Linked DNA regions of Homo sapiens. The protein of the gene in region 2 purifies or fractionates together with the protein of the main gene of each other region. This does not show direct contact. Each region holds a gene or a part of one and is shown on either strand. Other genes may lie near its edges.

Region 1 (3,590 bases), on a different chromosome or scaffold from region 2:
ACAGTTCTACGATGTGAAGAAAGGAAAAGCTAGTGTAGCTCAAGAAGCTAGACAGTGCCCAACTACAGAAGTAATGAAAAGGACAGACCAGGGAAGGCTCCTGCGTGGGTCAAAGAGGGAAAGAACTGTGCCTAGTCTACAAGACACAGAAATAAAATACAGAATACACTTTTTGTAACAGTGAAACAAGTATCAAAACAGGAAAAATCTGCAATCCATCCAAAAATCATTTGTCCCCTCCTAATCCCTCCATCTTTCTGTACTTAGGAGTTTTCTTGTACATGTAAATGGTGACAAGAGTGGGAGGCTTAATTGCTTCTTCAAGTTGGATCAAAACAGTGCATAGCTCAACTGTTGCATTCTCCGCCACTAGGTTTACAAAGCAAATAACACATTAGTTATTTTCATCAGAGGAAGTCTCTCACTGTTTCCTTTTTTCGTTTTTTTTTGTTTGTTTGTTTTTTGAGACAAAGTCTCGCTCTGTCTGTCGCCCAGGCTGGAGTGCAGTGGCTCGATCTTGGCTCACTAAAAGTTCTGCCTCCTGAGTTCACGCCATTCTCCTGCCTCAGCCCCCCCAGTAGCTGGGACTATAAGCGCCCGCCACCACGCCCGGCTAATTTTTTTGTATTTTTAGTAGAGATGGGGTTTCACCATGTTAGCCAGGATGGTCTCGATCTCCTGACCTCATGATCCGCCCATCTCAGCCTCCCAAAATGCCGGGATTACAGGTGTGAGCCACCGCGCCCAGCCTGTTTGTTTTTTTGAGACGGAGTCTCACTCTGTCGCCCAGGCTGGAGTGCAGTGGTGCGATCTCGGCTCACTGCAAGCTCCGCCTTCCAGGTTCACGCCATTCTCCTGCCTCAGCCTCCTTTTTTTTTTTTTTCCTTTGAGATGGGGGTCTTGCTCTGTTGCCCAGGCTGGACTGCAGCAGTGCAATCTCAGCTCACTGCAACCTTTGCCTCCTGGGTTCAAGCAATTTTCCTGTCTCAGCCTCCTGAGTATCTGGGATTACAGGCATGCGCCACCATGTCCGGCTAATGTTTCTATTTTTAGTAGAGATGGGGTTTCGTCATGTTGGCCAGTCTGGTCTCGAACTCCTGACCTCAGGTGATCTGCCTGCCTTGGCTTCCCTAAGTGCTGGAATTACAGGCGTGAGCAATTGCGCCCGGCCTCTCTGTTATAAATTAGTGTTCATAAATTAATATTTTTAAATACATGCACAGATTTAAAAAATTCATTCAGTACAGGGGTAATAGGATAGAAAAGCAAATCTCACTCTCATCCAGGAACCTCCTAATCACCCAAATTCCCTTCCCCATTGCTACCAGTTGATTCATATTCATTACAACTCTAGAAAAAAGGCTGGCAAAAAAACTACCCCAGGGGCAAATCTGGCTTACTTGTCTTTGGAAAGAAAAATTGTACTGGAACACAGCCATGCCTATTTGTTTACATATTGCCTATGGGAGTTTTCACACTTACCATGGCAGAGATAAGTAGTTTCTACAGAGACCACATGGCCCACAAAGCCTAACATATTTATTGTCTCTTTACAGAAAATGTTTGCAACCCCTGTTCTACAGGAATTTTATCTCTAGAATCTAGAGATATGATATGCAAATTTAAAATATATAGATATAGCAACACCTTTAAAAACATAAGTGGAGGCCGGGCACGGTGGCTCACACCTGTAATCCCAGCACTTTGGGAGGACTAGGTGGGCGGATCACAAGGTCAGGAGATCGAGACCATCCTGGCTAACACAATGAAACTCAGTCTCTACTAAAAATACAAAAAATTAGCCAGATGTGGTGGTGGGCGCCTGTAGTCCCAGCTACTAGAGAGGCTGAGGCAGGAGAATGGCGTGAACCCGGGAGGCGGAGCTTGCAGTGAGCCAAGATTGCACCACTACACTCCAGCCTGGATGACAGAGAGATACTCTGTCTCAAAAATTAATAATAATATTACAAAAATTAGCTGGGCATGGCGGCACGCACCTGTAGTCCTAGCTACCCGGGAGGCTGAGGCAGGAGAATCGCTTGAACCGGAAGGCAGAGGTTGCAGTGAGCCAAGATCGCGCCACTGCACTCCAGCCTGGTGACTGACCGAGACTCCGTCTCAAAAAAAAAAAAAAAAAAAAAAAACCACACACACACAAGTGGAAGCATAGTTCAGTGTCTGACTTTTTTTTAAACAATATATTTTAAGAGATTGTTCCATATCAGTACATACAGATCCTTTTCTTTTCAAAGTTGAGTAATATTCTACTATATTACAACTCATAACTTATATATTTCACTACACTGTTCCTGCATTGGTTTTAGTTTTAATTTTTTTGGTAAGAATGATACCTTATTTGGGCCAGTCGCAGTGGCTCATGCCTGTAATCCCAGCACTTTGGGAGACTGAAGCAGGCGGATCACGAAGTCAAGAGATCGAGCCATCCTGCATCCTGGCCAACATGGTGAAACCCCATCTCTACTAAAAATAAAAAATTAGCTGGGCGTGGCAGCACGCTTGTAATCCCAGCCACTCGGGAGACTGAGGCAGGATAATCGCTTGAACTCAGGAGGCGGAGGTTGTAGTGAGCTGAGATCGCGCCACTGCACTCCAGCCTGGGCGACAGAGCAAAACTCCATCTCCAAAAAAAAAGAATGATACCTTATTTGATTTGCATTTCTTTGGTAACCAGGATAAGCATTTTCCTATGGATTTTTCTTAAAATAGTATTTAGGAACCGACTTTTAATGCTAACCCAGTAGAGAGGCTCTATTTAGCAAAATCATTCATTATAAAGAATTTGTGGTGACTATATTTACAAAACATTGTTTAGAAGGAGTTTCTGGATAGATGTCTTTTTTTTTTTGAGACAGAGTTTAGCTCTTGTTGCCCAGGCTGGAGTGCAATGGCATGATCTCCGTTCACTGCAACATCTGCCTCCTGGGTTTAAGCAATTCTCCTGCGTCGGCCTCCCAAGTAGCTGGGATTACAGGCACCCGCCACCGCGCACAGCTAATTTTTTGTATTTTTTAGTAGAGACGGGGTTTCACTATGTTGGCCAAGCTGGTCTCGACCTCCTGACCTCAGGCAATCCACCCACCGCAGCCTCCCAAAGTGCTGGGATTACAGGCATGAGCCACTGTGCCCGGCCTCCTCCCAGATTTTAATTTATCTCACTTCCTCATGTCATTCAGGTATCAACAAAAATATACTGACCATTTGTAATCTAAAGTAACCCATCCAATCACTACCTTAACATCATTTTCTTCATAGTGCTTTCAATATCTGAAATTATCTTATTAGGATGTTTTTGGTAGAGTATAAACTCTATGAAAGTGAATATTATGATCTGAAATAATTTTTTTATTTGAGATAATTTCACTTTAGAGATGAGGAAAATAAGATAAAGAAATTAAAGAATTTGCCTGAAAATAGACAAAGTCATGGCAGTCTAACTGCAGAGTGAGAAATTCTGGTTTATGTTTAAATAAAGTAAAAATACTGGCAGGGCACTCTTGGCTCACGCCTGTAATCTTAGCACTTTGGGAGGCCAAGACAGGTAGATCACCTGAGGTCAGGAGTTAGAGACC
Region 2 (4,839 bases):
CAAAAACCCGAGTCACCCTTGTCATCTCTTTGCCTTCCAATCCCTGGGCCAAAGTTATGTTGGCTGTACCTTTAGTACACAGAGTCCTACCACTAGCCACTACTGCTGCTGCTACCACCCTAGGCTAAGCCACCAACACTCGATGTGAAGACTTCTGAGTTGCTATTAAATCTTCTGAGTTGCTTCTCCTAAATCTATTTTCACCCAGGTTCCCTATAATATTGTATACACAGTATCCAGAGTGACCTTTATGTCAGACCATGGCTCAAACCCCTCAATGGCTTCCCAAGTTTCCTACCATGGCTTCCAAGAGTCCCCAGTTCCCAGCCCCTTGTACACTGTGCTCTAATGCCCTGCTTTAGTCAACCTGCCAAGCTTGTTCCCTCCTCCCTCCCTCAAATCTTTGCCTGCCTTATTTCTGCTCTTAGCTCTAAGGATTACTTCCTTAGGGACACCTTTTTAAATTACCATAAATAAAAGACTTGCCACCCCCCCTTCCATTCATTTCCAGCCCTTTACTCAGTTTTCCTTTCACTTTAGCAATTTACCTGACATTTTATGTATCTGACTCCTCCACTAGAATGTATCGTCCACAAGCAGGGATATTTCCTTTTTACACCACAACTGCTTAAAACGGTGCCTGGCACATTAATTAGCACTCAGATGTTGAGTATTCAGGCACTGGTGGTGGAGCCACTGGGGGCAGGAGATACTCTCATGTGTGTATAAGCATCTGTATCTGCTTCAGATTTGCATAAATCTGGATGTAGATAATCCACAGCAGCTTTCAATAAGTTGAAAACTGTGAAATGTGGCAGTGGTTCCAAAACATTTCCATATATTATAATGGGGATCTTTTAAAAATTCTAATGCTTAAGCCACATTCCAAATGAATTTAGATCACAATTGCTGAGGGTGGGGCACAGATATCAGTATTTGTTGAAACTCCCAGGTAATTCCAACGTTAAGTTTGGGAACCACTGGTGTATACAGTATGAGTTGGTAACCATGATATGAGATCCAGAATACTCAACAAAAGAAATTCCAGTCCTAATGCTACGCATGCTTAAGACTTCTATTTCCAAGATGTGTAGAAAACAAAACAAAAAAGTCATAAAACTGTTTCAGATATTAGGTCTTAAAGAGAGCACACCTTCCAGGATTTTCCAGGTTCGTTTTCCCGTCAAGTCTAATCCAAACTTTGGCATTTCTATTAGGAAGTCGTTTCTTTTCTCCCATCTGCCAAGGCAGATTTACGTATGAAAAAGTGGTGACTTCTATGTAAGTCGCATCTGAAGGCTTTGGGGGTTTTGTCCATACTGATATTTTTAATGGTGTCAAGTAAAAAGCTCCATTCTGGTAACAAGGTTGTAATCACTAAAACAAAATGCCATATTCTCAAAAGGATTTCCTTACAACTCAGCTAAGTTATGGTGATGAGAAAGGATTTGCTAAATTCTTAATCATGCTGTCTAACATTTCTCACTCAAAAGGTAATAGAATCAACTAGCTCTAGTCATGAATCCAAATATTCTTAGGACAGAAGCTAACAAATATTGCACATTTACCCATCTCCAAACTCACCTTTAAACTATCTTTATACCTCAGAATGAAGGACAAAATTAATGAAAAGAGAAGTCATGTCATTATTAAAATCCTCACTATAGTGCAAATAGTAGAAATTTCCAAGGAATCTCGGAGATATTTAAGCCAACTCATTTTACAGGTGAATGACCTGACACCCAGACAAGGTGAAATGACATGCCTAAAAGTCACACAGGAGAGCTAGAAGAGAAAAAAAGCATTTTTTTTTCCCAAAACAAGCAGACAGGATTTTTCATGTTAATCAAAAAGAATCAAGATCATCAGATTAGGAAGAAATGAGGAATAAAACATACGTTACACACAGATTTAAAGAACTAGTCAATCTGCTGCCCCCAAAACCAAAACCTTCTCTAAACATATGGACATATATCCATCAAGATGCTTACCCTTCAAATATCAGAATCTTGGAAAATTCAATTTACAAATACATTAATTGCATTATGATGATGAAATAAGTTAATTAAATGTGAAAACATCAAACAGCACCAATACTAGAAGTTAAGACAGTAAATACACTATTATTTAAAATAGTCACTGATTGGGACAGAAATGAACAATAACCACTAGCAAAACCATTTAAAACAACTCTCTGACATAAAGGCAATATTTAAAGACTACTATATGCCCCTTTCCACTGATAGGCCTGTGGCTACGCATCCTGGCAGCAGGTCACATGGAAAATACTATTAATTAAGATGTATTTTTAAATTGTTCAACCTTGAGCCGTGATACTATATAACCCAAAGTTTGCCAATGTAAGCCAATGTATATTTTTGGTATGCTAACTACTCTTACCTGTCCCAATTAAAAGAAAACACAAAACAACTCCCTTATTAAGCACTAGACTAAGTATATCTACAAAGCAGCAGCAAGGCATTGACAAATGGGCTACTGACAGTGGATCAAAATGCTACTAAGCAAAAGACAGCAGCACGTACTCTCATAAGAGCACATTATTCCACATGGAATCCCAAATTACTCTTATCTCCAGTTCCTTAAACTCCTAGAAGACTAGAGATGAACAAGCCAACGTATAAATAGGACTAGGGAAAAAGCAGCTCAAATGGCATAGTGTCTGTATTTTAAAGTACCCAAGATCATTTGATGCTTAAGAGAAATCCCACTACATCTAACATTTTTTTAAGCATGTATAACTAAAATGCTAGTGAAACTTTTGTGTTTACCCAAAAAATAACATTGCAGTTTTAAGTGAAAATGAAATAGGCATGGTTTGTGAAATTTTTATAATGTTTACACCACCCTCTTCCTGTTCCCTGCTCCTTTCATCAGGTGATCTGAAGACTACCTGGTTGGAAATATTTGGTAACTCAGTGCAGAAAATTAAGGTCACAGACAAAGTACAACAACTTTTAATACACCATTAATACTAATGATTAAAAATTATTGCATAGTCTTATGCATTTACCCTAAAACATTTTCTGAAAGCAAACGAATTATATAAAAGACAAATAACCCTTTAAAATGTGGATGGCCTTTACTACCTCGATCTTCTATCCTTTTTTGTCTTTTCAGTACTTTTGTCCATTGTTTTCTCATTATCTCCCCTGCACTTTGGGCAATACCATTTCCCCTTTGGTTTATAGGTAAGTGAAACACATGAAAAGTGAAACCATTCAATTGGACACTGTTCATTGTCACATCCTATCATCTCCCCATAAGACACTTGGTTGCATAAGCAGTATGTAGGTTCATTAGGATCTATTGCAAACTCAACAGGTGAAGCTTCCCTTTCCTGCTTGGCCTTGGAGCGTTTCTTTTTCTTTGCTGACTTGGATTTCTTTTCTTTAGGTGGCTGATCATCACAGTCTTCAATCCCATTTGCCATGTGACATAAATCACGGCTTTCACTGGTCCGCTGCCTGCGGGGTCTTCTTGAAGATCTTTCTGGTTGGCTGGAATCCATCTTTGCTTTATCTGAGGCTCGTTCACTTTCAGCAGGATCTTGGAAACACTGTGAGTGTAACTCCATTTGTCTTGCCCGATTTTCCACCAATTCGAGCATTTGTGTAACAATCTGTATTTTTTCATCTCCCAATTCTTGACTATTAATTAGTGCTCTCTGGAGAAGCTGCTGTAGACGTTTCTTCTGGTTTAAATCATCTTCTTTCTTATATTTTTCGTAGACATCATCAATTTCCTTTAACGTTTCTAAAAAAAGGAAAAGAAAAATGAGAACGTTATCATGTGTTAGCAGACACAACATTTCCAAGGTAGTTATTTTTTACAGAATTGAAATTAGAACTCAAACCATGAAACCATACTCCTCTTTGGTACATATACATTAAAAACTATTTCATACAAAGACCACATTATCTAATATGAAAGTATAGTTAGAAATAAAGTAATGAAAAGAAAGAACACAAAACTAATACTCATTAATCTATATTAAAAAGAGGCTGGGCGCGGTGGCTCACGCCTGTAATCCCAGCACTTTGGGAAGCCGAGGCAGGTGGATCACCTGAGGTCAGGAGTTCAAGACCAACCTGGCCAAGATAGTGAAACCCTGTCTCTACTAAAAATGCAAAAATTAGCCGGGCATGGTGGCAGGCGCCCCTCATCATTTCAGCTACTTGGGAGGCTGAGGCAGAGAACTGCTTGAACCCGGAAGGCGGAGGTTGCCGTGAGCCGAGATCGCACCGCTGCACTCCGGTCTGGGCGACAGAGCAAAACTCCATCTCAAAAAAAAAAAAAAAAAGGCCAGGCGCGGTGGCTCACGCTTGTAATCCCAGCACTTTGGGAGGCCGAGGCGGGTGGATCACGAGGTCAGGAGATCGAGACCACGGTGAAACCCCGTCTCTACTAAAAATACAAAAAAAATTAGCCGGGCGCAGTGGCGGGCGCCTGTAGTCCCAGCTACTCAGGAGGCTGAGGCAGGAGAATGGCGAGAACCCTGGAGGCGGAGCTTGCAGTGAGCCGAGATCGCGCCACTGCACTCCAGCCTGGGAGACAGAGCAAGACTCCGTCTCAAAAAAAAAAAAAAAGGATAAGAGATGTTTGGCTAATTAATGATCAAAAGTATTTCTCATGGGCAGGAACACTGAATGCCACTTTAGTCTACTAAGTACTGTAACACCTTCAAAACAACCCTATATATAAAATGTGCAGGCTGGGGTCCAGCTCTAAAACTTGAAAAGGTTACAGGACTAGGCTACAGATTACTGCCCAACTGTGTTTACAGGATTTACAGTCCAATCAATGACTTGTGACAATGAC

The links. The genes of interacting proteins can lie anywhere in the genome.
Region 1: the proteins of ING2 (region 2) and ARID4B purify together in Homo sapiens (affinity purification with mass spectrometry; 3 studies listed by BioGRID and IntAct, with this or other methods). This does not show direct contact.

Annotation. Positions count from the first base shown.
Region 1 is NC_000001.11:235,168,791-235,172,380, forward strand, and holds part of ARID4B (AT-rich interactive domain-containing protein 4B), read right to left. Parts: intron 1-3,590. UniProt on the Homo sapiens protein: Acts as a transcriptional repressor. May function in the assembly and/or enzymatic activity of the Sin3A corepressor complex or in mediating interactions between the complex and other regulatory complexes.
Region 2 is NC_000004.12:183,509,217-183,514,055, reverse strand, and holds the end of ING2 (inhibitor of growth protein 2), read right to left. Parts: intron 3,775-4,839; coding exon 3,104-3,774; 3' UTR 1,627-3,103; downstream 1-1,626. UniProt on the Homo sapiens protein: Seems to be involved in p53/TP53 activation and p53/TP53-dependent apoptotic pathways, probably by enhancing acetylation of p53/TP53. Component of a mSin3A-like corepressor complex, which is probably involved in deacetylation of nucleosomal histones.